Homo sapiens: one gene and its partners. The protein of the gene in region 3 purifies or fractionates together with the protein of the main gene of each other region. This does not show direct contact. Each region holds a gene or a part of one and is shown on either strand. Other genes may lie near its edges.

What was found.
Region 1: the proteins of ALDH3B2 (region 3) and SLC25A13 purify together in Homo sapiens (affinity purification with mass spectrometry; one large-scale study listed by BioGRID and IntAct). This does not show direct contact.
Region 2: the proteins of ALDH3B2 (region 3) and SFXN2 purify together in Homo sapiens (affinity purification with mass spectrometry; one large-scale study listed by BioGRID and IntAct). This does not show direct contact.
Region 4: the proteins of ALDH3B2 (region 3) and CLN6 purify together in Homo sapiens (affinity purification with mass spectrometry; one large-scale study listed by BioGRID and IntAct). This does not show direct contact.
Region 5: the proteins of ALDH3B2 (region 3) and ZMYM2 purify together in Homo sapiens (affinity purification with mass spectrometry, with the first as the bait; one large-scale study listed by BioGRID). This does not show direct contact.

The regions. Positions count from the first base shown.
Region 1 is NC_000007.14:96,184,895-96,189,598, reverse strand, and holds part of SLC25A13 (electrogenic aspartate/glutamate antiporter SLC25A13, mitochondrial), read left to right. Parts: coding exon 1-18; intron 19-220; coding exon 221-305; intron 306-4,584; coding exon of another isoform or gene 4,585-4,587; coding exon 4,588-4,672; intron 4,673-4,704. UniProt on the Homo sapiens protein: Mitochondrial electrogenic aspartate/glutamate antiporter that favors efflux of aspartate and entry of glutamate and proton within the mitochondria as part of the malate-aspartate shuttle.
Region 2 is NC_000010.11:102,716,050-102,722,266, reverse strand, and holds part of SFXN2 (sideroflexin-2), read right to left. Parts: intron 6,034-6,217; exon of another isoform or gene 5,940-6,033; coding exon of another isoform or gene 5,938-5,939; intron 5,654-5,937; exon of another isoform or gene 5,556-5,653; intron 4,832-5,555; exon of another isoform or gene 4,498-4,831; coding exon of another isoform or gene 4,487-4,497; intron 1-4,486. UniProt on the Homo sapiens protein: Mitochondrial amino-acid transporter that mediates transport of serine into mitochondria. Involved in mitochondrial iron homeostasis by regulating heme biosynthesis.
Region 3 is NC_000011.10:67,670,718-67,677,721, reverse strand, and holds the start of ALDH3B2 (aldehyde dehydrogenase family 3 member B2), read left to right. Parts: upstream 1-3,098; 5' UTR 3,099-3,286; intron 3,287-3,742; exon of another isoform or gene 3,743-3,988; intron 3,989-6,194; exon of another isoform or gene 6,195-6,659; intron 6,660-7,004. UniProt on the Homo sapiens protein: Oxidizes medium and long chain fatty aldehydes in lipid droplets into non-toxic fatty acids.
Region 4 is NC_000015.10:68,214,805-68,221,021, reverse strand, and holds part of CLN6 (ceroid-lipofuscinosis neuronal protein 6), read left to right. Parts: intron 1-2,371; coding exon 2,372-2,486; intron 2,487-6,217.
Region 5 is NC_000013.11:20,063,219-20,069,435, reverse strand, and holds part of ZMYM2 (zinc finger MYM-type protein 2), read right to left. Parts: intron 4,986-6,217; coding exon 4,891-4,985; intron 2,586-4,890; coding exon 2,417-2,585; intron 2,198-2,416; coding exon 2,046-2,197; intron 1,353-2,045; coding exon of another isoform or gene 1,326-1,352; exon of another isoform or gene 1,080-1,325; intron 1-1,079. UniProt on the Homo sapiens protein: Involved in the negative regulation of transcription.

The DNA of each region.
Region 1 (4,704 bases), on a different chromosome or scaffold from region 3:
TTTATATGAGCCAAGGGGGTAAGTTGGCTTTTTTTTTTTTTTTTTTGGAATTAGCTTAATAAAAGGAGGTTAGGAGGAGGGCAGCAATCAGGAGAAAAAGAAGCCAAACTGAAGGCTATACTGAAATATGAGAAATGAAAAAAGGGATGTTTTTAAATTTTATAATGTAAATTGTAATAAATTGGTATATTTGTTGCTTGTGTTTGTTTTTCCCCTACAGACGTATGACCTTAGCAGACATTGAACGGATTGCTCCTCTGGAAGAGGGAACTCTGCCCTTTAACTTGGCTGAGGCCCAGAGGCAGGTGAGCAAAGAGGAGCAAACTTGCATTCTGGGGTTTCCTTAGCAGGATACCCCAACCCTGTTCCACTTGCAGTTGCCTTTGCGGCATTGGTATCTGACTTAACCATTTTTCTGTTTTGCACCAAAACTCTCGATAAATTTTAAAGGCTGTAAAGAGAAATTGCTTAGAAATGGTGTGATAAACAGGTATTTGGCATTTGCTCATTTCTTGCTAAGGTGGAGTGATTTCCTAACTGCACCAGAAGCCTAATGCTCCGAAAACATGAAGGAGGTCTTTTCTCCTTTCTTGAAGTCTCATGTTGAGAGATGTAGCGAAAGAATCCCGTGTTGGTGTCACTGTGCCTGTCGGCAGCTGCACGTTGCTAAATGAAAGCCGTCTTTGCTCTGTGGAGCAGCCCTTCATCAGCGCATCGTCTAACTGCCATGCCTTCCGTTTTTCTGAATATCAAAATGAGATAATTTTGTTTAGTCTGGAGTTACAGTTTAAAGGCTTTCAGACCTATTTTCTCTGTGAAAGGATTCATAAGTTATATGGAAACAATTTTAGGAATGCTAAATTTTATTTTATGGTTAACAGAAACCAATCTCTTGAAGTTGTGGGAGTCAGAAACTTAAGACATGGAACTTTCTCCTTTAACTCTTACCCAGCTTTCTGTAGATCAGGATTAGAGAAGAAAAGCCTTCATAGCATGTGTTAGTAAAATAAATGGTGTTTGTAAAATAAATCCACTCACAGGCGAGTGTCGTTTTTAGAAAAATTTCTCCTTTTAGGCAGAGCCATCTCTGAATCCTGTGAGACTTCGCAGTTTCTGGCATGGAGCTCTGGGTTTGTACAGAGACGCCAGTGTGACCACAATGGGTTGCTGCAGGCTACACTTTTAGGACTGTCAGACCTTGAGCCAGGGCCCCCTTCTTTTAGCTCTTTCCCACCCAAATGCAGCGGTGAGTTTTGTGTGCAGCATGCAAGTCAAAGTAGTGGGTGTGTGCTCAGTAAATTCTAACGAGCACCTCTGGAAAACCAGCTGGCCTTGCTTAAAAGAGGAAGCCGATTTCTCTGAGTGCAGGAGAAATAACTATAATCACGTGTAGAGGTGGAAGCAACACTGCTCTCCCTTCCCTTTGATTTTTAACACTGCTTAGGAGATGATTATCTCTTCGTCTGTATGCCACCAGCTATTGTAGAAATTTGGGGATTAAGAGAAGCAGAGAAGTTTTTTTTAGATCCCTCCTACTCTTCAGCTGGCAGCGGCTTCCCACAATTTTTCCTTTAAGCTCTTTGCAGCTTTTGAGAGTTTATGATGGGTGCTTGTTGATACTGGCCATGAAAGGGTTAGACCAGATTGATGAGATTTATAGCAGGAAATGATTCGCTGCCGCTTAGAGGTTTAGAGCAATTCACAATGGCCTTACCTGGAATAGGCTTTTTACTGCATGAACCCTAGTGGGCCCGACAAATTCAAGCAAGGGAGGTCGTCCACCTGTGGGCACAGCGCTGCCTGTCCAGCACTGTGCAGCACTTGTAGCATTTATCCTGGACAGAGGAGTGAAGGAGCAGAGTTTTGTCTCATTTCAAGAACATGCTACAGTTCTGGCTTTGGAAAAGTTAAATAAAAGTCTAGGATTTCATTTGTCTTTTAGGAGAGGAATTAATGGTGGTGGTAGGTCCCTCCTCCCCCCACCCTCTATAATTTTCAGAGTATTTTCACTCATTATTTTGATGCCAGAACATTTCTAAGTATTGCATATTTATATCCCTGTAAATAAAATATTGCTTCTCTTTTGGATGCATCTGTCAAAATGAAGGTACTATTGATTTCCATCTATATAGGGCTACAGTTGGAAACAACTCATAGAATTTGCAAAAGAAATGTTTTGTATCTTAAAGAGGCATATTTCTATGTAAAGCTATTTTCAGTTAAGTGACTTTGAAGGAGATTCCAAATGATCTCATTGTATTAGAATTGTGTTACATTGACAGCAACTAAAATTCAGTGGGTTGATAGCTGGGGTTGCTGATTATTTTCATTGTTCACTGATTTTAATTATCATGGATTCTGAAAAACAAATTTTATTGAATGTATGTATTCATTCAACAGGTATTTATTAAGCACTGACTATATGTCACCCTCATTTGACAACTCTCTGTGACATAAAATTACTGTTTTATTTATGCAGACAGAGAAGTGCAGCACTCTGAAATGTTCTGGCATCAAAAACACTGTGAGGATAATAGGTCAAAAGAACCAGAAAACAATGACTGACTGACCTGAAGTATGAATTTAGAAAAGATGGACAAAAAAAGAGAAAAAGTAACGATCAACTGTAATACAGCCACCTAGTTTTAGCTACTGTAAATGTTTTGAGTATCTCTGGGTGGTAGGGAGGCAAAATATTAGTATTAATTTTATATGCATATATATGTAAACCTCTTACAAGCATTTTTAATAAAAAGTGACATCATTTTGTATATAGTCTTAAAAATTGTTTTTAAAAAAATTACCAGGAAATAGGTCAAACATTTAAATAGGTACAAAGAATCATATGACAAATACCTATCTACTTACCATGCTCTTTTTAGCCTATGTTTTCTTTTATAATTCCTTGTGAACATTTAATATCAAATATTCTTTTACAGTATCATTTTGAATGATAGGGTTTTGTTTTAAAGTTATTATTTTTAAAGGCTATAGTCCTCCGTTATTGGACATTTAGAATATTTCCCAAATTTTTGTTCTTTTTGTTTAAAGAGCAAAAATTTGGGAAATAATCGAAATTTCCAATAAGTACTACAAATGTTTTTTAAGTGCTACATTCTTGTAGCTTGTTACATGCATGATTATCTTCTATCCTAACTTTTTTCTTTTTGAGACGGAGTTTCACTCTTCTTGCCCAGGCTGGAGTGCAGTGGCGCGATCTTGGCTCACTGCAGCCTCCGCCTCCCAGGTTCAAGTGATTCTCCTGCCTCAGCCTCCCAAGTAGCTGAGATTACAGGCATGCGCCACCACGTCCGGCTAATTTTTTATTTTTAGAAGAGACGGGGTTTCTCCATGGTGGTCAGGCTGGTCTCGAACTCCTGACCTCAAGTGATCCACCCACCTCGGCCTCCCAAAGTGCTGGGATTACAGGTGTGAGCCACTGCACCCAGCCTATTCTAACTTCAGAGGTTATGTACATTTTAAGGGTTTGGGTGTATATTACTAAACATCTCTCTATTTATGCTTGCTTTAATGGCAAATTTCAGAAGGCTTGTTATCAACTTTTGCCAGGCTGGGTATTGCCACTTAAAACAAAAACAAAAATACATACAAACCAAAAACCTGCCAATTTGATTGATGAAAAATGATGTCTCATTGATGTTTTTATTTGCTTTATTTACTTTATTTTATTTTATTTTTTTGATACAGTCTCACTCTGTTGCCCAGGCTGGAGTGCAGTGGCGCGATCTCGGCTCACTGCAAGCTTCACCTCACGGGTTCACGCCATTCTCCTGCCTCAGCTTCCCAAGTAGCTGGGACTACAGGCGCCTGCCACCACACCCAGCTAATTTTTTTCTTTTTTTTGTATTTTTAGTAGAGACGGGGTTTCACCATGTTAGCCAGGATGGTCTCAATCTCCTGACCTCATGATCCACCCACCTCGGCCTCCTGAAGTGCTGGGATTACAGGCATGAGCCACCGTACCCGACCTATTTTTATTTTTGAGATAGAGTCTTGCTCTGTTGCCGAGGCTGAAGTGCAGTGGCGTGATCTCAGCTCACTGCAACCTCTGCCCCCTGGGCTCAAGTGATTCTCCCTCCTCAGCCTGAGTAGCTGAGACTACAGGCACATGCCACCATGCTGGTCTAATTTTTGTGTTATATTATAGAGATGGGCTTTCACCATGTTATCCAGGCTGGTCTTGAACTCCTGTGCTCAGGTAATCCGCCCGCCTCAGCCTCCCAAAGTGCTGGGATTACAGGCGTGAGCCACCGTGCCTGGCCTCAGTGATGTTTTTAACTGTGCATTTTTTTTAATGAGAATTTGAAAATAGGCTTATAACATCATTTTTGTCAAAGGATGGTTTTGATTATATTGAAATTTGGTTTTAAACATTAATAGCACTAAAATCTTTTTATTAATAAGAACTTATGAAATCCATTCCTACTTTTTTCCTTGACATTTTAGTTGTATCATGGATTTAGAACCCAATGAGTAATGTTTAAAGTTAATGTATGGTCATTTTTGTTTTATCTTCTTTTCTGTCACCTGTTTTCCTGCTCTCTGATTCCTGTGCATGCAAAGCAGAAGGCCTCAGGTGATTCAGCTCGACCAGTTCTTCTACAAGTTGCAGAGTCGGCCTACAGGTTTGGTCTGGGTTCTGTTGCTGGAGGTTAGTCATGGATGAGAGAAAAATTTTCACTT
Region 2 (6,217 bases), on a different chromosome or scaffold from region 3:
ACCACTAAAAAGGTTTTCAAAAGAAGTATAATTGATATGCTAAGAGAGGAGAGAAAATGGAGTCATACAAAAAAAGCTGACGCTTTTAAATGTTTGCCTGAAAGCTTCAGGGAGTCATTGAAAGACTTTAAGAAGAAGAGTGACAAGATCAGATATGTAGTTTACTAAGAACAAACTGGGTAGTCATGAGAATAAACAGGATGTGGATGGACCTCACGGGATGCAGGGAGACCAGCTGGACGAGAACCCCAGTAATCCAGGCAAGAAGAGGTAGGGCTCAAATGAACCCACGTGCACTCAGAGGAGAGACCAACAGGAGAGAATCTTTCAAAGAAGCGGAATGTTAAGGTCTGCTAAGCAATAGGTATAAGAGGAACATTTTATCAGTCAAGGTTCAACCAGAGAAGCAGAATCAGTAGATTACAGACAGACAGACAGGTAGATACCAAAACATAACATGGGGCAACATGGAGTTCCTCTAACTCCTGAGCTCAAGCAATCTGCCTGCCTTGGCCTCCCAAAGTGCCAGGATTACAGGTGTGTGCCACTGCACCTGGCTATGACACACACATATACATATTTTATATATTTCTAAAATATATTTGTATACTATAATATATATTTTCTAAATATATAAATTATATAACTATATAAATATATAATTTTTTAAATTTATAGATATAGCAACATATATTTATAATATATAAATTTATATATACATTTATTTATATAGACATGAATTACGTTTAAATATAACATATAAAAATAATATATAAACATAAATAATTCATATAGCTATATAAAATCATATATAAATATATAACTTTATATGTTATAAATATATGTTGATCTATCTATATAGATTTTATAATTTTTTCTTCTTTTTTTAGGCAGGGTCTCAGCTGGTTGCCCAGGGTAGAGTGGAGTGGTGCAATCATAGCTCACTGTAATCTCAAACTCCTGGGCTCAAGGAATCCTCCCATCTCATCCTCCCTAAGTGCTGGGATTACAGGCATGCACCACTCCTGGCCTAAATATATATAATGCTGACGTAATATAATATTGATAAAATATAGAAATTGATTTATCACAAGGAATTAGCGAATTGGCTCACATAACTGTGGCTGTTGGCTAGGCAATCCTGAAGTCAGCAGGGCAGGCGGCCAGCAACAGACCATCCCAGGGGAGAGGGAGCAACGCGGGTAATGGCTCAGAGTCCAGAACCTCAGAGGGGGTTCAGGGGTGTTCTAGCCCTCCTTTAAAGGGCTTCCACCTGATTAGGTCAGGCCACCCAGGATAATCTCCCTTTTGATTAACTTAAAGCCAAACAATTGAGGAATTTAATTAGGTCTGCAAAATCCCCTCACAGCAGCACCTAGATTACTGTTTGTCTGAAGAGCTGGAAGATGGTGTGTGTGTGCTCCTGGGTAGCCACTATAACTGGAATATACCAGAGAGGGAATCCCGGGAGTCTTGCTTAGCTTAGCCAAGTTGACACATGACAAATATCCAGAGTGATACCTAGGGTTTCTGACTTGGGCGATAGGTGCTAACAGGGAGAGCACAGAAAAATTGGCTTTGAGGGAGAAAATATTAATAGTAAGCTTGATTTCTGCATGTTAAGTTTCAAATACCATGGGATTTTTTTTTTTTTTTGAGACAGGGTCTTGCTCTGTTGCCCAGGTGGGAGTACAGTGGTATGATCATGGCTCACTACTCCAGCCTCCACCTCCCAGGCTCAAACGATCCTCTGACCTTAGCCTCTCAAGTAGCTGGGACCACAGGCATGTGCCAACATGCCCGGCTAGTTTTTGTATTTTTTGTAGAGACAGGGTCTCCCTATGTTGCTAGGCTGGTCTCAACTCCTGAGCTCAAGGGATCTACCTGCCTCAGCCTCCCAAAGTGCTGGGATTACAGGAGTGAGCTACCAGCCCCGGTCCTGCCATGGGTTTTTTTTTTTTTTTTTTTTTTTTTTGAGAGGGAGTCTTGCTCTGTCACCCAGACTGGAGTGCAGTGGTGCGATCTCGGCTCACTGCAACGTCCACCTCCTGGGTTCAAGCAATTCTCCTGCCTCAGCCTCCTGAGTAGCTGGGATTACAGGTGCGTGCCACCACACCCAGCTAATTGTTTGTATTTTTAGTAGAGACGCGGTTTCACCGTGTTAGCCAGGATGGTCTCGATCTCCTGACCTCGTGACCCATTACCCGCGTCGGCCTCCCCAAGTGTTGGGATTACAGGCGTGAGCCACCAAGCCCGGCCGGGATTTTCTTAAATGCAATAGGCCTCTTCCTGTCTCAGGTCCTTTCCAAACACAATACTCAAAAGCTAGTCTTTCCTCTCTTCACTAAATAGTACCTATTTGTCCTTTTATTTTTTTGTACAAATAATTTTCAGATTTACTTCTATAGCTTCTACTACTAGGTCATTTTGTTTTTTTCTTGGAAATAGCACCTTAGCTAAGTTAAATAATTCACCTGTGAAGTGAGGTGGTATGTTCATTTTGCTCACGACTGTCACCCCAGTGCCTAGCACAATATTCAAGTATTTGCTGAATAAGAAGTTCATCAGCCTGTGGGTATTCAGGCTTGAAAGGAAACAGAGGTCAGAGCTAGAAGGAAAAAACTGAGTCAGCAGCATCGAGGTGATTTACGATAAAGTTTTCCAGTGAGAACACACAGAATGGGAAGAGGAGAGAGCTGAGGACAAACCCTGAAAAATCAGGACATTTAAGAAGCCAAGGCCGGGCACAGTGGCTCACACCTGTAATCCCAGCACTTTGGGAGGCCGAGGCGGGTGGATCACCTGAGGTCAGGGGTTTGAGACCAGGCTGGCCAAGATGGTGAAACCCCATCTCTAATAAAAAAAAAAAATACAAAAATTAGCTGGGCGTGGTGGCAGGCACCTATCATCCTAGCTATTCAGGAGGCTGAGGCACAAGAATTGATTGAACCCAGGAGGCGGAGGTTGCAGTGAGCCGAGATTGTGCCACTGTACTCCAGCCTGGGCAACAGAGTGAGACTCTGTCTCAAAAAAAAAGAAGCTGAGGCCGGGCACGGTGGCTCATGCCTGTAACCCCAGTGCTTTGGAAGGCTGAGGCGGGCGGATCACGAGGTCAGGAGTTTGAGACCAGCCTGGCTAACATGGTGAAACCCTGTCTCTACTAAAAATACAAAAAATTAGCCGGGCGTGGTGGCAGGCGCCTGTAATCCCAGCTACTTGGGAGGCTGAGGCAGGAGAATCACTTGAACCCGGGAGGTGAAGGTTGCAGCGAGCCGAGATGGCGCCACTGCACTCCATCTTGGCAACATAGCAAGACCCTGTCTCAAAAAAAAAAAAAAAAAAAAAAAAGAAGCCGAGAAAAGGAAGCCCCCAAAGATGGGAAGAACCACCAGAAAGAAGAGAGAAAGGAGGTGGAGACAGGCACAGGCCTGTAATCCCAGCACTTTGGGAGGCCAGGAGTTCAAGTTCAAGAAAGGAGGCAGAAGGGACAGTGTTGGGGAAGGAAGAGCAGTGGTCAATTTTTAGATTTTTCGTTAAGGCGGAAGAGACATCAGGAAGCTGATATGCTGGAGGTACGCCATTTCCTAAGAGGAAAGACCAGGAACAAGAGGAGAGGCTCAATATGGAGTATCCACAGCGCCCTGGCCTGGCCCCGATGCTTCTCTGAAGCGGCAATCTCCAGAGAAGTCAGAAGGCAGACAGAAAGAGTCCACTGCCAAAACAGACTTCCCCTCTCCCTGCCACCTGGCCTCCTGCAGGCTGCTTCAAAGACCAAAGGCATTTATCTCAGTCCCAGCTGAAGCAAGAGTGGGAGGAGGGGAAAGAGTTCACTTTCCCATGCTCTACATGAACCTAAAAGGAGTCAGCTTGGCTGGCTGAACACACGCTGCCTTGGCTTACAGAGCCCCAGGCTCATACATGCTGGAGACAGCCTGACTGAGCAAAATGCTATGCCTCCCCCTCAGCACACACATACACACAGAGCCAGACCTTCTCTGACATCTCTGTTCACCTTAACACAACATTGCAAAGTCCTCTGCTTCTCAGAATGGAGGGACTATCATCAAGGGGTAATCTAAACATTTGCTAATTATGCAAGAGCCTTTGCCTTCTTAATTGAAGTCAGGATAGAAACTGCAGAGTCCCTGTCTTAAATAAAACATAAAGCCAAAACAAAAACAAAACAAAAAAAACACTAAACGATCTGTCTGGAACATTTCCCCCCACACACCCACTGTCCCCCAATGGGCACTCTTCCCCGACTCCTTCAGGACAAACTCAAATCCTTCTGTGATATATACTCCTACAGCATCCTGTCCTTTGCAGCATGCTGGGCGTTTGTGATTGTCACCTTCTTGTCATTGACTGTGATTTGTGTAAAGTCTGCCTCCCCTGACAGACTGTAAGGCTCACAAGCATCGGGATCATGTCTGTGATGTTTACTGCTACATGTTTCACATGCCCTCGAAGAATATTTACTGCTTACCTGAAATGCATTCCAACTTCTTCTTGGGTCTCTTGGCATCAAGGATGTCACCTCTTTTAAGTCAAACTTAGAACCTGCCTAGGTTACAGAATTAAGAGCACGCTTTCTTTCATGAAGTTGCAAAACTGTCTACCTTGCCTGTACTAAGTCATACTGGTCTCTAAATTTTCTTCTACAGTTACTGTCCCTCCTCCCACACAAGCCACATCTAGTCTTCCCTAAAAAGGTCATCATCATGTCCAGGGTAGCCCCACTTCTGTATGGTCCCACTACTAGGAACAAAGTAGGAGTAAAAATCAGACCAGTGATTTAATGATATCTCCCTCCTAGGATTAGAGAATGTCACAGCTTGAGGCCGGGCGCAGTGGCTCACGCCTGTAATCCCAGCAATTTAGGAGGCCGAGGCGGACGGATCACGAGGTCAGATCGAGACCATCCTGGCTAACCCTGTGAAACTCTGTCTCTACTAAAAATACAAAAAATTAGCCAGGCGTGGTGGCACGCACCTGTAATCCTAGCTACTCAGGAAGCTGAGGAAGGAGGATCGCTTGAACCCGGGAGGCGGAGGTTGTAGTGAGCCAAGATCGCACCACTGCACTCCAGTCTGGGTGACAGAGCGAGACTCCGTCTCCACAAAAAAAAAAAAAAAAAAAAAAGAGAGAGAGAATGTCATAGCCTGAAGACATGTGATCTAAGATCTCAGTTTACAGAAGAGGAAACTGAAGCCTAGAAAGGTGCACATGGATTGGGCCACCACAGTGGGCATTTTTGATACACTTGGCCCTGCACTAAGCGCTTGCAGCAGATATAAACACGAACAATCAACAGATCCAGTCCTCAAAGATTGGACAACAGCTAAGGCCTTACTTCCCCAAGGTCCTCTATCCACTATAGCCTACTTGCCAACTCCGAGGCCTGGCACGGTGGCTCACACCTGTAATCCCAACACTTTGAGAGCCCAAAGCAGAGAGATCACCTGAGGTTGAGAGTTCAAGACCAGCCTGACCAACATGGAGAAACCCCCGTCTCTACTAAAAATAAAAAATTAGCCAGGCGTGGTGGTGCATACCTGTAATCCCAGCTACTTGGGAGGCTAAGGCAGGAGAATCGTTTGAACCCGAGAGGTGGAGGTTGTGATGAGCCGAGATCGCACCGTTGCACTCCAGCCTGGGCAATAAGAGTGAAACTCCATCTCAAAAAAAAAAAAAAAAAAAAAAAGGAAAGAAAGAGAGGGAAACAAAGAGAAAAAAAAAGTAATAGACTACTGCCACCTCTGACGTAATGCTCATCCTTCCCAGAAAGAGCAGATTTTCTCTGGCAAATGGTATCAGAGATCAGAAAACAAGCTTCCAAATTCCTTCTGAGGTATCCTCTTACAAGCAGAAGTGCACAAGATTACTGTTTGTAGCCCCAGGTAGGGAGAAAAACGAAACATCATCGCTGGTACTCACATCAGAGGAAGATCAAGGTAGCCAAAGACCCCAGAAGGTCAGACACAAAGACCACTGAGACAGGCAAGGATTAAGGTCAAGGCTGCCTAGAGCAAGCTGGAAAATGAGGGTAATAATTACAAGAGCAGGCCCAGGTATAGGCTTATGGGTACTCGTCTGACTCCAAGGCAAGTGGGCTGTTAGGCACCAGACAACTTAGAAAGAGCAACCTCCCTTGCCTTTTTCACAAAAGGGCCAACAGTCTGGAGATGAGTAGATTATAGGGGTTTGTGCTCCTGTA
Region 3 (7,004 bases):
TTCTGGAGGAGTCCTCAGGGTTTTCAAGGTAAACAATTATATCATCAGCAAACAGGGACAGTTTGACTTCCTCTTTATCGATTCAGATGCCCCTATTTCTTTTTCTCATCTGATTGCTCTGGCTAGGACTGCCAGTAATATGTTGAAGAGGAGTGGTGAGAGTGGGCATCCTTGTCTTGTTCCGGTTCTCTGCGGGAAGCCTTTCAACTTTTTCCCGTTCAGTATTATGTTGGCTGTGGTTTTGTCATAGATGGCTTTTATTACATTAAGATATGTCCCTTGTATACTGATTTTGCTGAGGGTTTTAATCATAAAAGGATGCTGGATTTTGTCAAATGCTTTTTCTGCATCTATTGAGATGATCATGTGATTTTCATTTTTAATTCTGGTTATGTGATGCATCACATTTATTGACCCTCCTACGTTAAACCACCCCTGCATCTCTGGTATGAAACCCACTTGATCATGGAGGATTATCTTTTTGATATGGTGTTGAATTCGGTTAGCTAGTATATTGTTAAGGATTTTAGCATCTATGTTCATCAAGGATATCAGTCTGTCATTTCCTTTTTTGGTTGTGTCCTTTCCCGGTTTTGGTATTAGGATGATGCTGGCTTCATAGAATGAATTAGGGAGGGCTCCTTCTTTCTCTATCTTGTGGAATAGTGTCAAAAGGATTGGTACCAATTCTTCTTTGACTGTCTGGTAAAATTCTGCTGTGAATCCTTCTGGTCCTGGACTTTTTTTTTGTTGGTAATTTTAAAATTACCACTTCCATCCCGCTGCTTGTTATTGGCCTGTTCAGGGTATCTAATTCTTCCTGATTTAAACTAGGGGGGTTGTATTTTTCCAGGAATGTAACCATTGCTTCTAGGTTTTCTAGTTTATGTGTGTAAAGGTGTTCACCATAGCCTTGAATGCTCTTTTATATTTCAGTGGTGTCAGTTGTAATATCTCCTGTTTCATTTCTCAGTGAGTTTATTAGGATTTTCTCTCTTCTTTTCTTGGTTAATCTTGCAAATGATCTATCAATTTTATTTATCTTTTCAAAGAACAAGTTTTTGTTTCATTTACCTTTTGTATATTTTTTCTGTTTCAATTTCATTTAGTTCTGCTCTAATCTTGGTTATTTCCTTTCTTCTGCTTGGTTTGGGTTTGGATTGTTCTCGTTCCTCTGTTCCTTGAGGTGTGATCTTAGATTGTCTGTGCTCTTTCAGACTTTTTGATGTAGGCATTTAGGGCTATGAACTTTCCTCTTAGCACAGCCTTAGCTGTATCCCAGAGGTTTTGATAGGTTGTGTCACTGTTGTCATTCAGTTTGAAGAATTTTTTAATTTCCATCTTGATTTTGTTTTTGACCCAATGCTCATTCAAGAGCAGGTTATTTAATTTCCAGTTATTTGCATGGTTTTGAAGGTTCTTTTTGGAGTTGATTTCCAGTTTTATTCCACCGTGGTCTAAGAACATGCCTGATATAATTTCATTTTTCTCTTGTTGCCCAGGCTGGAGTGCAATGGTGTGCTCTCAGCTCACTGCAACCTCTGCTTCCTAGGTTCCAGCAATTCTCCTGCCTCAGCCTCCCGAGTAGCTGGGATTACAGGCACATGCCACCACGCCTGGCTAATTTTTTGTATTTTTAGTAGAGACAGGGTTTCACCATGTTGGCCAGGCTGTTCTGGAACTCCTAACCTCAAGTGATCCACCAGCTTCGGCCTCCCAAAGTGCTGGGATTACAGGCATGAGCCACCGCACCCGACCTATTTTACATTTTAACAATTGCTACTGAGGTTGAGCATATTTTAATTTATTTACGTCTATTCAGGCTTCTTGTCAGTTCAGTTTAACAAAACAAAACAAAACAGCTTATTGAGATAGCATTCACATCCCATACAACTCACCCATTTACAGTGTACAATTCAGTGGTTTGGAGGCAGTGGGCCTCCCCAGTGGCCATAACCCATCTGCTGCTCTTAGATGGGCCTTAGCATTCTGCCCTGTATTCCCTTCCCCATCCCGAGGTCCCTTCCTGGTGTCACATTGGCATTTACATCTTTAGCTACCGAAGATTCCAGGGCCAGGGCTTGGTCTCAGGCTGTGGCCTCCGCTGGGCTGTCTCCAGTCACAACCAAGGGTTATCTCAGATGTCCCTCCTGCCCACAGGGCTGCACACTCTGCCAAGAGACTCTCTACAGCCCTCAGCAGGGCGTGTCCTTGGTCTCAGGCTTGGGGGAAGGTGGGGTGGGGACAGAGTCAGGCCATCCATGAAGGACAGTGGCAGGACCTGAGCTCATTCTGCTCCCTGGAACCTAGAAGGTGCTCAGCAAATACTTGTGGAAACATTAGCGGGCAACATTGAGGGGCACTGATTTTGTGCCAGGAGCTGTGATCTGCCTTTTCCATTCTCACGTCTCCCTCTGTGACCCTCTCAAGAACCATGGCAATTAGGTGTTATTGTTACTTCCGAAAGGCTCAGAGACGTTAAGTAACCTACCCACGGTTGCACAGTAAATAAATAAACCAATGAACAATGCGCCATCCTAGAGCTACAGGTGCCGTCGCCCATCAAGGGTCTCTCTGCAAAGATCTGAGCCCCTTCCTCTGCCCTGAGTATGCCAGCTGGGCACACTGAGAGTGGAAATAGAGCCACAGTTGCTCATCTTGACCTGTGAAGCCTGAAGAGTGAGGACAGGAGAGGAGGGAGATGAAGATTTAGCATAGAGACCCTAGGAGGGGCCATGGGGGGCATGGGACCACTGTGGCTGGGGCCTGGGAGGACTTCCTGGCGAAGGCAGCATTTGCCACCAGGATCCTGCTGATATTTTCATCCTGTGACCTTCCCCTGGGGTTCTTTTTTCCTGATCAGGTAACTCCCTGCTAGCCCATTCCAGGAAACACAGAGCAAAGCCTCAGACAGCCTTGACTTGTCTAACCTGTTCCCAAGCCGGCTGTGCAGTGTGGTCCCTGGGGGCAGGGCCCTGGAAGAACAGGGCAGACACCGAGCAGCTATAGGTCCTGGCAGTGAGACAAGGGTAGGCATGGGAATTGGGAGGTGCAGCCCTGCCCCACGCCTGTTGGGTAACACTGAGCATCACCCCATTGATTACCCCATTGCCAGGCGTGGGCACGGGAGTTGGTTTGGGAGCTGCCAGTCTCCTGGGAGGATCGCAGTCAGCAGAGCAGGGCTGAGGCCTGGGGGTAGGAGCAGAGCCTGCGCATCTGGAGGCAGCATGTCCAAGAAAGGGAGTGGAGGTGCAGCGAAGGACCCAGGGGCAGAGCCCACGCTGGGTTATGTGGGGCCACAGGGGTGAGGGGCGGGCAGAGGGAGCTCAGGGTAAAGGACACTGGTGGGAACCAGGGGCATGGAGGGAAGGGGATGTGTGCCCATGGCCCGTGGGTCAGGGGGCAAGCCCACCAAGGGGCCTATGGCTGCAGGGGCCATGGGTACGGGGCTTGCTCAGGAGAGGGAGGTGGGTGCTGGTGTCTTCTGAGCCTCACTTTGCCCTTTGGCAGGCTCCTGGGAAGCAGCCACAGAAATGAAGCCTGTTCCCCAGGAGCCCCAGGGATGGGGACAGACCCCGTCCTCCCTTTGAGGAGCTCCCAGGTTAGAGGAGAAGGCAGCTCTGTGGACAGACAAGGATTGGGTCGGGGGCACCAGGGCTGTGATCAGGAGGTGCCGGAGAATCGGGGATTGGAAGCAGAGAGATTCTTGGCAGTTGAAGCGAAAGTCGGATCTTTGGTTTCAGATGTTAAAAGCAACATGCATTGCTTGTTTCTGGTTCTAGAAATACTACATTCGCATTTAGAAAGTCTGGAAGCTGCAGGAAGATGTTGAGAAGACAGTGAAAGGCACGAGGCACACATTGGCACATGGTGTCACAAGGCTGGTGTGAGGAGAGGGGCTGGGGGGCCTCCCTCCTCGCACTGAGGCTGTGAGGAGGGCAAATCAAGTCGTCTCTGGGAGCCTCGGTTTCCCTGTCCTTCCAACTGGGTAATAATAATAGCTGTGAGGCTCAGATGAGATGTGCATGCCAGCTACCTGGCCCCAGATGCCAGCTCTGACTTCTTTCTGGGCCCTGCACCAGGCATGGCCACTGCCAAGGGAATGAGTCCCCTCTCCATATGACAGGTCCCATCAGGCCTCCACCTTCCTGTGTGTCTTATTTCTCAGCATCTGCCCCCACAGGGCTTTTGCACACGTTGGTCCCTCTGTCCAGATCACCTGCCCTCCAAGAGGCCCTCCCCTACGGCTTCCCCGCAGCAGTCAGAGCCAGGGGTGGGTCTCTGGCCACCTCTGGAAGAAGCCCTGGCCCACCGATCATGTTTGTAATGATATTGTTTCCGGTGTCATTGTTCCGTGTGTAGACTGTGAGCTCCATGGGGGCTGGCCAAGTCTGGGGTGGTCACCTATGGGACCCAGGTCCAGTCAGGAACTGCCTGGTGAGCAGCCAGAGGTCCCCAGTGTAAACCCAGAAAATCTGAGACGGGTCTCAGTTAATTTATAAAGTTTATTTTGCCTGTAATCCCAGCACTTTGGGAGGCCGAGGCGGGCGGATCACGATGTCAGGAGATCGAGACCATCCTGGCTAGCACGGTGAAACCCCGTCTCTACTAAAAACACAAAAAATAAGCTGGGTGTGGTGGCGGGCACCTGTAGTCCCAGCTACTCGGGAGGCTGAGGCAGGAGAATGACGTGAACCCGGGAGGCGGAGTTTGCAGTGAGCTGAGATCGCACCACTGCACTCCAGCCTGGGCAACAGAGTGAGACTCCGTCTCAAAAAAAAAAAAAAAGAAAAGAAAAGAAAAGAAAAGAAAGAAAGAAAGTTCATTTTGTGGCCAGGCGTGGTGACTCATGCCTGTAATCCCAGCACTTTAGGAGGCTGAGGCAGGTGCATCACTTGAGGACAGGAGTTTGAAACCAGCCTGGCCAACATGGTGAAATCCTGTCCCTACTAAAAATTATAAAAATTAGCTGGGCATGGGGGCGCATGCCTATAATACCAGCTACTCGGGAGGCTGAGGCAGGAGAATCATTTGAACCTGGGAGGCAGAGGTTGCAGTGAGCCGAGATCATGCCAGTTGCACTCCAGCCTGGGTGACAGAATGAGACTCCATCTTAAAAAAAAAAAAAAGTTAATTTTGCCAAGGTTGAGGACGTGCACCTGTGACACAGCCTGGGGATGTCCTGACAGCATGTGCCCAAGGTGGTCGGGACACAGCTTGGTTTACACACTTTAGGGAGACAGGAGACAGCAATCAATATATGTAAGAAGGCCAGGCACGGTGGCTCACGCCTGTAATCCTAGCACTTTGGGAGGCCAAGGCAGGGATCACCTGAGGTCGGGAGTTTGAGACCAGCCTGACCAACATGGTGAAACCCCGTCTCTACTACAAATATAAAATTAGCCGGGCATGGTGGCAGGCACCTATAATCCCAGCTATTCAGCTATTCGGGAGGCTGAGGCAGGAGAATCGCTTGAATCCGGGAGATGGAGATTGCAGTGAGCTGAGATCCCACCACTGCACTCTGGCCTGGGCAACAAGAGAGAAAGTCTGTCTCAAAAAAAAAAAAAAAATACATATATATATACACACACACACACACACACACACACACACACAAAATACATACATACATATATATATATATATATATATATATATATATATATATATATATATGAAGTACATCGGTTCCATCCAGAAAGGCAGGGACAGCTTGAAGCAGGGGGTGGGGGTGAGGGTTGGGGCAGCTTCCAGGTCACAGGTAGGTGAGAGACTGCATTCTTTTGAGTTTCTGATGAGCCTTTCCAAAGGAGGCAATCAGAATGTGCATCTATCTCGGTGGGCAGAGGGGTGGCTGTGAATAAAATGAGAGGCAGGGGCCCGCACGGTGGCTCATGCCTGTAATCCCAGCACTTTGGGAGGCCAAGGTGGGCGGATCACCTGCGGTCAGGAGTTCAAGACCAGCCTCAACATGGAGAAACCCCATCTCTACTAAAAATACAAAATTATTTGGGCGTGGTGGTGCATGCCTGTAATCCCAGCTACTCGGGAGGTTGAGGCAGAAGAATTACTTGAACCTGGGAGGCAGAGGTTGCGGTGAGCTGAGATCGCAGCATTGCACTCCAGCCTGGGCAACAAGAGCGAAACTCCGTTCCAAAAAAAAAAAAAAAGGGGGGGGAGGCAGGTTGGCCCTGATCAGTTTCCAGCTTGAATTTTCCTTTTAGCTTACTGATTTTGGGGGTCCAAGATATTTTCCTTTCACACCAGTCAGCCCTGCCCCAGCAAGCGCCCGGACCCCTGCCCTGCAGCAGGTGGGCGAGACAAGAAAGCACCTTGCATGAGAGGCAGGGCTTGGGTCCAGCTCCAGCCCCCATCTGTTTCCTCATCCGTCAGGCAGATGCTGCTGGCTCCGTGATTATTTCACCGAGCACCAGATGTGCACATGTGAGGACAGGCGACGACTGCCCAGAAAGGGCAGGGGTTCCTCTGCCCCACCTGCCTCACCTGGGAAAGCTGTGACCACGCTGAGGCCAGGTTCCTGGGATGAACATCAGGACACCTGTGTGCCATAGCTCATCCCAGACTCCTCCAATCCGGGTCTTGATTCAGGCCGGAGGCGGTCATCCCTCCAAAGGCACCAGGGAGCCATGGAAGAGGTTAGAGCTGAGCTGATGTGGCCAGGAGCTGCTTGAGCGCCGGGTGGAGGCTGCTGACGCTCGCATGCCAGGCAAAGCTTTGGGTCAGGGCCCTGGAACCTGGGACCTGGAAGCGCTCCAGGCCAATACCGCCCGCTACCAGAGAAGGGCCCAGGCCCCACCCAGGTTCTAGCCCAAGGGCTTGAGCAAAGACAGTAGATGAATATTTGCAGAGCCCTGTATGCTGCGTCCTCCTCCAGGCCCTCATGCAGGGGGGCCGCACACTGAGTGTGGGGGTCCTGTGCCAGGAATGTGATCACGCTGCCCAGGGGAGGGAGGCGGCATCTGCAGGTGTGGCCAGGAAGG
Region 4 (6,217 bases), on a different chromosome or scaffold from region 3:
ATAATAATAATAATAATAATAAAATAAAATTAGCTGGGCATAGTGGCATGCACCTGTGGTCCCAGTTACTCAGGAGACTGAGGTGGAAGGAATGCTTGAGCCTGGGAGGCCAAGGCTGCAGTGAGCTGTGATCACACCACTGTACTCCAGCCTAGGTGACCCTGTCTCCAAAAAACAAAACAAAAAAACAGAATAGCAAGCTATTAAGAGCACAGGTCTTGAATTAACATAAACCCAGGTTTGAATTGTGTGTGTTATTCAGGACGACTGGGTTGCAAGTGACAGAAAGCCAGTGTGAACTGCACCATCCTTAGCAAAAAGGAATGTGTTGGCTCATATGGCCAGATCATGAACTGGCAACATGAACACTGTCAGCACTTTTTCTCCCCCTTTCCCTGATCCTCTCTGCGAGGCTACTTCATTCTTACCTGGATGTCCCTTGAGGGTGGAACCTTGGCTGTAGGCAGTCCTGGGCTTGCACCCTTAGAACCCAGCACTATAAAGGAAGGAGCTCTTTTCCTCACCTGCAGTTGGAAAAGTCCCACTGGGCCAGTCTAGATCACTGGCCCTTCCTGTGGCTAAGAAAATATCATGTCTTACCAGAAGAAGCAGTGGGTGGGAAATAGGCTGACAAAAGGAATTGTTGCCACAGCTCCTTACTACACGGGTGGCTTTGGCTAAGCACCTAATCCCTCTAAGCCTCAGTATCCTCATCTGTAAAGCAGATGCGTGGATTAGATGAGATAGTGCAGGTAAAGACCTAGCATTGCACATAGTTGGTGTTCAGTGAGGGGGTGGAAGATACCGAGTAGAGGGGACAGGAAGACTTAGCTGACCTAGGGAAGGCCTACCCAACCTGTCTTGCCTGCCACTAGAAAATGAGATTTCTCCCAAGAGCTTGCCTCCCTGTCCTGGGGTACTCTACCAGCCAGTATGGATCATCCTTGGAACTGGCAGGAAGGGATCTCAGAAAATTAGGGAAGCAACAGCAGTATCGACAGAAGACAGTCTTTGCAGTGCCTCTAAGCTAATGTTTGCCACTACAAAAGGAGTAACTGGTCGTTGTGACTGTTTTAATCAGCCAGTAGTTGCTGAGCATGGACCAGGGCCTGAGCTCAGAACTCTGGAGGAATACAGATTTGTGGTCCATGGCGCCTGTTCTTGGCACAAACGAGACGATGAAACCCACACCTCAGTCCTCTTAGGATGTGGCTGGCTGCTTGTCCCTGGAGGTGTGCAAGTAATTGCAGGGACTCTGTAAAGAGGATTTGGACTCTGATAGGGAGGTGGGTGAGTTGGGAGAACCTTAAAGGTCACCCCTGTTCTCGAGGGTCTAGATGGGAGAGTACAGCTCCAGCCCCATTATGCCAGACTGGGTTGGCGTTGAAATGCTCCCTGCAGTGGGCTGGTGGGGCTTTGGGAAAAGCTTCATCAGGGAAGCCTTCCCAGAGGAGGCAGCACTGGTCCTGGAACTTCAGTGCATCTGTGAACAGCAGATGACCAACTGTTTAGTGAGAGGGACAGGCCTCCAAAGATGTATCGTGAGGCAGTACTCCACTTCCTGCTGTGTCTCTCACATCACCTTGCTTCTGCTGGCTCCTTCTCAGGTTCTACTGTGGACTGCTGAGAAGAGGATTACCAGCAGCCCAACCTGACCTCCTCACAGTGCTGGAATCAAGCGAGCAGGAGGCCCTATCCATTTCAGTCTCTCTAAAGCACATTTCATTGGAGGGCTCTGATTGGCCAAGCTCTGGTCACATGCCCATCCCATAGACCAATCCTGATGGACCCAACTATGGGATGGAGGTTAAAAGTATAAGCTCAGGAGCCCAATCATTTGGGTTCAAATCCTTAGCTGTGTGACCTTGAGCAAGTTATTGAGCCTCTTGGGCCTCAGTTTTTTCGTTTCTAAAATGGAGGTAATATTTCAGCCTTGAAAGGTTTCTGTGAGGATTAAATGAGATAATACATGTAAACAGCTAACAGTAGTGCCTGGGATATAGTAAGTGCTCAACTAAGGTCAGCTGCCATGATCCATCATCAAGTTTCATGCTTTTCAGCCACGATTGCGTCCTTTGCCTTTCTTGATTTCCTCCATCTTTCAGTAGCGGAGAAACCCCAGCAATTACACCTGTTCAGCTGTTTCCTTCCTGAATCAGAGAGAAGCTAAGGTCGGGGCAGCTGAAGTCCACCTTCTCCTTGACCACAGGGCCAGACCCCAGTATATCCAGCAAAACCCTATCCATAGAACTCAATTATGTGTGTCTCCTCCTGTCCTCAAGTCCCCAGACCTCTTTGTGGCTAATCTCAGGGGAAGATTTTGGTGGAGGAGGAGAGAAGAGCTGACTTCTCTCGTCTGGTTCCTTCCCAGGCATGGCTCTGTGAGCGCTGATGAGGCTGCCCGCACGGCTCCCTTCCACCTCGACCTCTGGTTCTACTTCACACTGCAGAACTGGGTTCTGGACTTTGGGCGTCCCATTGCCATGGTGAGTGTGAAATGGTGCACAGGGCTCTGACCAGCACTGAGGACACTTAGTGTGGCTTGAATTTGCCGAGTGACCTTAGACAAGTCACTTCTCCTTTATCTCCTAGTAAACTGAGAGAATAGGCCTGGATGCCTTCATATCCTTAGCTCTATGACTTGGCCCGTCAGGCAACTGCCAGCAAGTGGGGGGCCTGAAGAGTCATACTTTGCCCCAACTCTCATGGGGGAACTGGTGGTCCTGAACAGTCATACTGTAATACTGTAACCCCCTCTGGCCTGTGTCTGGAAGCAGGTGAACCAGGTTGAACCAAATCACCAAGACAGACAAAGGGGTATAGGAAAGGAAGTGGAGCACCGCACCCCCACCTCCGTCTCCCCTGTCCTTCCCCATTACCTTGGGATAGTATTATTTTTTCTGGAGTTGAAGGGCGTAGGCTGATTTTGCATATTATATATGACTGTGAGCCATGGGTAATTTTTAATGCCATCCAGTGAAACCATCCCCTGCCTTCCAAGGCTACTTCATGCTTTAGTATCCAGTGGTGGCCTCCACAGACAAGATTAATGCTGGGAGGGCACCAGTGCCCCTTGCTTGTAGTGGGAGGATGGAAGATAGATAGGTAGGTAGGTAGGTAGGTAGGTAGGTAGGTAGGTAGGTAGGTAGATAATTGACAGATGATAGATAATAAATAGACGAACGTGAAGAAAATTAAGTGAGATATCACCAGGTATCAAGTCATTATTTGGTAGTGGGGGCACAGTGTGACTATTCATGGCCCCCAGACCCCTCCCACCCAACTTGCTGACAGTTGCCTGACGGGCCACAGTCATAGAGCCAAAAGATATGAAGGCATCCAGGCCTATACTCTCAGTTTACTGGAAGATAAACGGGAAGTGACTTTTCGAAGGTCACTCAGCAAATTCAAGTGTAAAAATAACAATATCCAGTGCTGAAACTGGCACTTTGTACATACTAGTGATCATGCAAATTAGCAAAGCCCTTTTGGGGCCGGGCATGGTGGCTCATGCCTATAATCCTAGCACTTTGGGAAGCTGAAACAGGAACATCACTTGAGCCCAGGAGTTTGAGATCAGTCAGGGCAATATAATGAGACCCTGTCTCTATAAAAGATTTGTAAATTAGCTGGGTGTGGTGATGTGCACCTGTAGTCCCAGCTACTCAGGACTGAGCTGGGAAGATCTCCTGAGCCTGGGAAGTTGAGGCTGCAGTGAGCCGTGATCACACCGCTGCACTCCAGCCTGGGCAACACAGTGAGACCCTGTCTCAAAAAACAAAACAAACAAAAAGCAAAGCCTTTTTGGAAAGCAGTAATAATTCATAAGTAACAACTTGGCAAGATTAGTACTTAGAATAGTGCCTAACACAATAAGTGTTTAATGCATTTTTACTGAATGAATAATAATTATAGCAAAGTTAGAATAGTGGCTAACATCGAATGTTTACTCTGTTCTAAGCTCTTTATGTGTTTCAGTTTATTTAATTCTCATATCAACACTATTGCTGATCTCAATGTTATAGATGAGGAAACTTGAGGAGAGAGAGAATAAGTAACTGGCTCGAGGTCAAGCATAGAGGCCAGCATCTGCCCAGGCATTCTGGCCCTGGAGCCCCTTTCTGACAAGGTTGAATTCTCTGTCACATAAATATCCAGAATCCTAATATATTCATCCCTCTGACCCAGTAATACCCTTCCGAGAATCTGCCCGTAGGGATATAATCAGCAAGAAGACAGCAGTTTCCTCTAACTCAAAGATGTTCATTGCAGTGGTGTTTATGATAGCCAAACCTTAGAAGTGACTTGCGTGTCCAGCATTAGGGACTGGGTAAATCAGTTTTGCTATGTCCATTATAGAGAATGTTTCCTGGCAATTAAGCAGAAATTATGGATACTATAGAGCAACCTGGAATATTTAAGGAGAAAAAAGGTTCCTAAATGACATGCAGACTGACTAATTGCAAGTCAATAACGAGCTTGTCTACCTGGGATCAAAGACTTGATAGGTGTAAAGAAAAGCTGTCCTGGCAATGCTGTCAGGGAGTGATGGTGGGTGCTGGTTCTCCTTCCTGCAGTCTTTTTGAAGGTTGCCTTTTAAATGTGGAAAAATAAGAGGAATTGAGCCAAGAGTTGGGGCATCTGGTTGGGTTTGTGGGTGACCTAGGGCAAGTCACTGTCCTGGGCTTCATTTCTCTCTCCAAGAAGACTGGCTGGACTGGCTGCTCTGAACCTTCTTCTAGCATGAAGGAACCACATACTGGGGGCCAAAGAAGCTGCCCATCAAACTGGTGCTAGAGAGAGAGATGAGGCCAGGAGTGGGCTCGTGGCTCCCTTCACTCACTAGGACCCAGCTTCTACTGGCATAACAGGGTCTCCTATTGGGCAAATCACTTCCCCCATCCTGCTTAGAGCTGCTGTGACCACTGTAACCCTAAGTAGGACTTGGTGGAACGTAGACATTTGAAAAGCTCTTGTATACGCTAGAGATTTTCAAATGTATGCATAATAGTTGCAAATTTGTTAAAAACAAAAACATTTACAAGTTATAAAAGTAACATGTCATAGATGTAACATAGTTGTAACATAAAGAAGTGTTAGACTCTCCCTACCCCTTTCCTGTCCCACTGCTGACAGTTTCGGGAACACCCCTTTCACTCTTCTCTGCTTGTACAAACACATATATACATCCTTTTCCCTTCTAACCATAATGGGATTTTGCTTTATACTTTATTTTGCAACCTGCTTGTTTTCCTTTAGAATATATCATATGGTGGGCATGGTGGCATGTAATTCCAGCACTTTGGGAGGCCAAGGCAGGAGGATTGCCTGAGGCCAGTCCTGGCAACATAGCAAGACCCTGTTTTTACAAATAATTTAAAAATTAATGGTGCTTGGTGCCTGGCACCTGTAATGCCAGCACTTTGGGAGGTCAAGGTGGGAGGATCGCTTGAGCCCAGGAGTTTGTGACCAGCCTGGTCAACATAAGGAGACCTCATCTCAATAAAAAAGAAAAAAGAAAAAAAAATATAGCTCTCTCTCCATGTCAGTACATATAAGGTGTCATTTCTGTTAATGGCTACTTAACCTTCCATGGTAAGAAGTACTATCAGGGATTCAACTGGTCCTGTTTGATTGAAGAGTCAGCCTATTTCTGATGTTTTGCTATCACAGAGTATTTTAGCAAGTATATATATGATGTAGGTAAAGAGGCAGATAAACACATGCACACTGAGTAAGAGAGAGAGAGAGAGACTGAGATTGCTGCATTCTGTGAGTTTTATTTCTGCGGGTTTAGTTTATCCAATATGGCATTTCTGTGTTAAAAGAGAGAACCATCTAAATCCTTCCTTGAAACTTGTGGGCCTTATGTGTGTTTTCAATCAACAGATACTAGAAGTACAGTTTGGGGGTTGTGAAATGCTTTAACCCCGCATAGGGGTTTTCACACTGGCCTGGACAAGGCCAGGGCTCAGAAGAGAGAGCATTGCAGAAGGAGGAACTGCCCCTGGCCTGCCTTCCTCTCTCTGGGAAGGAAGAGTTGCAGCTACTTTGTAGAGCATTCTTGTTTTCTCCTTTGTCTCCTAACGTGTACTTTGAACCTGGTTTGGAAGCAGTCCCTCCACATCAGGGCCTAGCACTCAGGAGACTGATCTGGCACTCAGGAGCGCCAGAACCCGAACGGTCCAAGTAGGCCCTCTGGGCCACCTCTCTTGTG
Region 5 (6,217 bases), on a different chromosome or scaffold from region 3:
GCTACCAAAAAAAAAACCCTAAAGGGTGCATCGTACTTAATGGTCAAAGACAAAATACTTTCCTCTAAGATCAGGAACTAGGCAAGAGTTTCTGCTATCACTAATTCCATTCAACACTGTACTAGGACTAGGGTTTGGGTGGCAGGAGAGAAAAATGGGGGAAGGTTTCAAGCAATGTAGTAAAGCAAAGCAAAGAAAGATCAGAAAGAGGTAAAACTGTCCTTATTCATAGGTGACATGATTGTGTATATAGAAAATTCTAAGATATATTTAAAAAATAACAAAACAAGACCACCTACTAGAATAGTGAACTGATGAATATATAAAAATCAGTTATATTTTGCAAGTAATGCCAGGGGAAATAGCTAAAAGAGCAAAAAGCACGTCCTTAGGGAGAGGAACTAGGTAGACTAGAGATCAGTGGGGCAGAGAACCCCTTATTTTGTTGTTTTTATTGATTTTAAAAGTTTTATTATCTAAATATGTTTTTAAGCCTTGTTTCTACCAGAAATGAAATTTCTAAATGAAATTCCATACATAACCCCAAAACACAGCCCCCAAAAGTAGGAATGAATTAAAACAAGAGGAGCCTAGAACTCAAACTCTCTTCCTGCTGAGTTGATATGGCACAACGCTAGTGCTCTCTACAGCACTTTAAAAAATAATTGATCTAGATAACAGAATTATTTCTAAAATATAAATGTTCTCCTTAAATAAATTGTTCTGAAACTAGAGGACCAAGACAATTTCATCTACACCTGGTACAGTATAAATGCTACTCCTAGTCTCCCCCTCCCTCCTAGGTATAATAAAAGAAGAGGAGGGAAAATACACACATGGATCTTCAACCCCTCAGCCAGAACCACTGGAGTCACATGTTTTGGAATTCATCATTGTTTGGATTTTACAGGGGAAACAGGGCATGTACATAATTATAATACATTAATATTCCTAGAGTGGTGTGGGTAAACACTCTGTACTTGTTTAGAAACATTAACAATTCTATAGTAAATTCTATGGTTAATGTTCTATGGACGAATATTAACACCAAGAGTAATAAAGACAACAACAGCTTCACAATCCTTTAAGTTAGGTTTTACTGTTTACTGTGTTTTCATGAAAAAAATTCTGCTTTTCAGAGGTTTGTGGAATGGTGGACCTATATTATCATCTAAGCATGAGGCTCAAAGTACATGTAAACCTATAAAACGAGAATAAGAAAAAAGTAAACCTATTCACGTATCTTTTAGGTTGCTACTGCAAGATATATGATGGTCCTTGAATACAGTGATTTATAGCCATGCACTATATATCTGCACCACCACTTACAGAATCTTAAGCAAATTTCTATCCTAAAGAAAAAGTAAAAAAAACACAAATTAAGACAATTCTAGTTTTCTTCAGTGATTTACTTCATTATCTAACACCTGTTAGCAGAATAAAATGAATTTTTAGGCCTACAAACAAAACTCTGAAGAGATCTCCCCTGTCATCTACCATATTTCAAAATACATAGAATGTCAAGTTGGAGATTCTTTCTGACTTCTGGGCACAAATCTGTGGAATCTGTTCAGAACTAGAGGTCATTATTTAAAGTTGATCTCCATGTTTACTGTAGAAAACAAATTCATAGACATGTGGATGAAGTTTATCTTTACCCCTAAAGAATGATCTCTTTTTATGAAATAGCCAAAGAATTAATGAGTAGTTATACTATTTAACAAGTTAGAAACACATCAGAAGCATACAGTGAAACAGACCTATTTACAGAGTTATGACATTTTTCTGTTTACATGTAGATCAGCATGGATCTATAGCCAGATGTGGCTACATATCATGCCTTATAATGTGAATTCACTTATCTGCAATGGGTAAGGAAAGAATGTCATCCTGATTATCATTTATATATAAATGGCAGCAAACATACAACTTTGTAGATGTGTTTCTTGGTAAGTCAATAAAGGTTCCATAATGCTACAGAAACAAGAACTACCACAACTTTTCTTATTAATGTTATACTTGAAAGCAGCCATCAAATTACTAACCTCCTGTATTCCAAGGCAAAGGTAATAGATGCTGTCAGGTGCATAATTCTCTCCATTTGGCCGTCGGATCTCATTGACAAAATGAGCTAACCCATAGTTAAGCTCAGCTGTGGTGTGAGAGAGTAGATCCTCTTTTAACTTTACTGATTTAGCTAAAAATACATAAAATAAAAAATAATTGTTATTATTTAGCGTCTTATTAAGGTTAAGAAACTTTCTGACGTTATTCTTTGTAAGAGCTCTGAAGTAAAATAAAATGCATTCTTACAGGTATTTTAAGTTACATTTATGTTTTTTAAATTTAAAGGTACTCAATAACAGAAATCTTGATTTTAAATAGGACTTAGGAGAAACAAAATTAAAACACTTACAAGATTTTAACTCATCTAATACCAGAAGATCTTCATCAAGTTGCCTAGTTTTGACCCAGTGTTTCCATGCATTTACGCCATACGTATATTTGAAAGGAAAGCTGCATTCTGAATTGTCAGAACTATCATCATGAGACTGGTATCCTGATACAGCCTTTCTCTTGGCTCCCTATTAGTAAAAAACACCATAATAATATCTTTTTTAAAGCCTACATTATTTCATTACTTTATACAAGCCATCTCTCAACAAAGGCAAATTACAATTGACCCTTGAGCAACATGGGTTTGAACTGCAGGGGTCCACTTGGACACGTATGTTTTTCTGTGTGCCTGCCTCTCCAACCTCCTTCTACCTCTTCCAATCGTGCCACCTGAGACAGCAAGATCAACCTCTCTCCTCTTCCTCCTCAGCCTACTCAACTTGAAGACAATGAGGATGATCTATTTCCACCTAATGAATCGTAAATATATTTTCTCTCCCATATGATTCTCTTGATAACATTTTCTCTAGCTAACTTTATTATAAAAATACAGTATGTAGCATATAAAATATGTGTTAATCAACTGTTATCAGCAAGGCTTCCAGTCAACAGTAGGCTACTAGTAGTTAGCTTTTTAGGGAGTCAAAAGTAATACATGAATTTTTGACTGTGCAGGGGGGCTCAGTGAAGAGTAGGCTACTAGTACTTAACTTTTTAGGGAGTCAAAAGTTATACACAAATTTGTGACTGTGCAGGGGGGATCAGAGCCCAACCACTGCATTGTACAACGGTCATCTGTAATTACAAATATAGTTATCTGTTTAATCTGTCATAAAAATATAGTTATTTGTTTAATGTGTCATGAAATTAGAAAAGAAAAAATGAAATATAGGTATTTGCTTTGAACTGACTGGTATTCCTGAATCTGACAACAGTCAATTAATATTCCAGGAAATGTGATGTTTCTACATAAATCACTTTGTGCAACAAAATCATATTAAATTCTGTGGTGAGAGTCACCAATGATGAGAAAATAAATATAAGACAATAAACTAATAATCTAAATATTACTGTAACAGAAACTGAAGAACTTTTCAACAACTCCACCTTATAGAGAGTGACACTTAAGTACTTTTCACTTTTTTATTTTATTGTTTTATTTTTGTTTTTTTAAGACAGGGCCTTGCTCTGTCACCCATGCTAGAGTTTTGTAATCACGGTATCTCCCCTGCCAGGTAAGTATCCATGCTGGAGTTCTGTTTTGAGGAGAGGTCTTGCTCTGTTGCCCAAGCTGGAGTGCAGTGGCACGATCATAGCTCACTGCAGCCTCGATCCTCCTCCTGGGTAGCTGGGACTGCAGGCACGTGCCACCATGCCTGGCTGGTTTTTATTTTTTAGTTTTTGTAGAGGTCTCACTATGTTGCCCAGGCTGGTCTCAAACTCTTGGGCTCCACCAATCTTCCCGCCTCAGCCTTCCTGAGTGCTGTAAGTGCTGGGATTACAGGTGCCACTGTGCCTGGCCCCCTTTTCACTTTCCTGATGGCACTGTTTGCAATGCAAAAGTTTTTAATTTTGATGTAGTCCAGTTTATTTATTTATTTTTCCTTTTCTTCCCTGTGCGTTTGGTATCTTACCTAAGAAACTGCCTAACATAAGGCCATTAAGATTTAGGCCTATGTTTTCTTCTAAGAGTTTTATATTGTTAGCTCTTACATTTAGGTCTATGGCTCATTTTGAGTTAATTGTTGTGTTTGGTGTCAAGCAGAAGTCCACCTTCATTCCACTCCAAGTATTCTCTCCCTTTTCCGGTTTTTTTTCTTTCTTTTGGGGACAATTTGTGAAAGCTATCTTTCTTAAGGTATTTTTAAAACCTGCTTTATGTTGGAAGTCAGAAACACAGAAAGTTGACAGAATATTATAACAATTACACTTGTTAATGCATGTAGATTTGGTCTACCTGAATGATCAAACTGTCCAGCATGTCTTTCTATGTGTGTTGGTATGCCTAAAAGAGACCAGAAATAATAAACTGTGTACTTCAACCCCACTGATCATCTCATCAGAAATAATCGTGGAAAAAACAGCTCCCTAGAAAACAGTCTAAATTTTTGTCAAATAATTGAACTTACTACTTTAGCAACTGTTTTCTATTTTGACCTTGTATCAATACAAGTTTAGTTGAGGTATCAACTAAATCTGAGATATTTTTATTACTTAGAAACAGTAATAAATTATTACTAGAAATAAATTATTACTACTATTATTACTAGAAATAGTAATAATTACTATTTCTATACAAATAGAAATAGTAATAAATAATAGTAATAAATAGCAGTAATATATTATTACTATATTCTATATAAATAGAAAATAAATTATTTTCCAACCTAGAAAACAAAATATGTTCCCATATTCTCAGGCACACTAAAAGAACACTGTATCCTTGTTTGCCTATAGAGAAATATTGTTATATAGGCTATTAAGTGAATGTACCTTTTTTTTAGATCGAGGTCTGGGCTGTTCCTCATATTCTTCGCCAAAAACAGGTGGTAATAAAAATTCATTTTCCATATCAAGCTCCTCAGCAGCTGACAACCAAATCAGAACTTTTATTTTAAATGAAATAGCACAGGGTTACATAAACACAGCCAACAAAGAACTAACCACAGGATGTAAACCAGCATTCATACATGGGGACAATCTAGGCTGGGCTGGGGAGTAAATGACTCATTGTACCTAACATGGTTTGTGAATTCTGACAAACACTGTTCAAACTCCTAAAAACATATATAAAATGAATATCAACATAAAATTTTCATGAAAATGTATGATACCAGAAAAATTATTATAGTCTGAAATCCAATTACAAGATCTAAATGGTCTTGGTACAAATCTGATTCAATCTATTAAATGTTTTTTCCAAAAACTAATGTTTTACATTCTACTCAGTGTGCTCATTAGCCATCCATGGATTAAGAAAATAATGAAAAATGGGGCACACTTATTTTACAAAAGACCTGAAAATAATTTTTCCTTTGAAGGTGAACTTAATTTTCAAAGGATCTTAAAAAAAAGCTAACTATATATATTATATATATAAAAACTATATAATATATATAAAATATATATTATATATAAAATTATATTTATATTATATATTGTATATATTTATATATTATATACATCATGATGTATATAATATATAAAATTATATTTATGTATTATATATATTATATATTTTTTATATATATATATTTTTTGAGACAGAGTTTTGCTCTTGTTGCCTAGGTTGGAGTGCAATGGTGCAGTCTTGGCTCACTGCAACCTCCGCCTCCTGAGTTCAAGCAATTCTGCCTCAGCCTCCCCAGTAGCTGGGATTACAGGCACTCACCACCACGCCCAGCTAATTTTTGTATTTTCAGTAGAGACGGGGTTTCACGACGTTGGCCAGGCTGGTCTCAAACTCCTGACCTCAGGTGATCCACCCACCTCGGCCTCCCAAAGTGCTGGGATTACAGGCATAAGCCACCGCACCCAGATGCTAACAACATTTTTAAATTAAAAAGGACACAAACACTTCTTTAAACTTTCTATAATGAATTACTTCTAGAATTTTTTTTTTTTTTTTTTTTTTTAAAGACAGGGTCTCACTCTGCTGCCCAAGCTGGAGTGCAGTAGCACAATCTCGGCTCACTGCAACCTCTACCTCCTGGGCTCAAGCAATCCTCCTGCCTCAGCCTCCCGAGTAGCTGGGATTACAGGCATGCACCACCACGCCTGGCTAATTTTTATATTTTTAGTAGAGACAGTGTTTCACCAC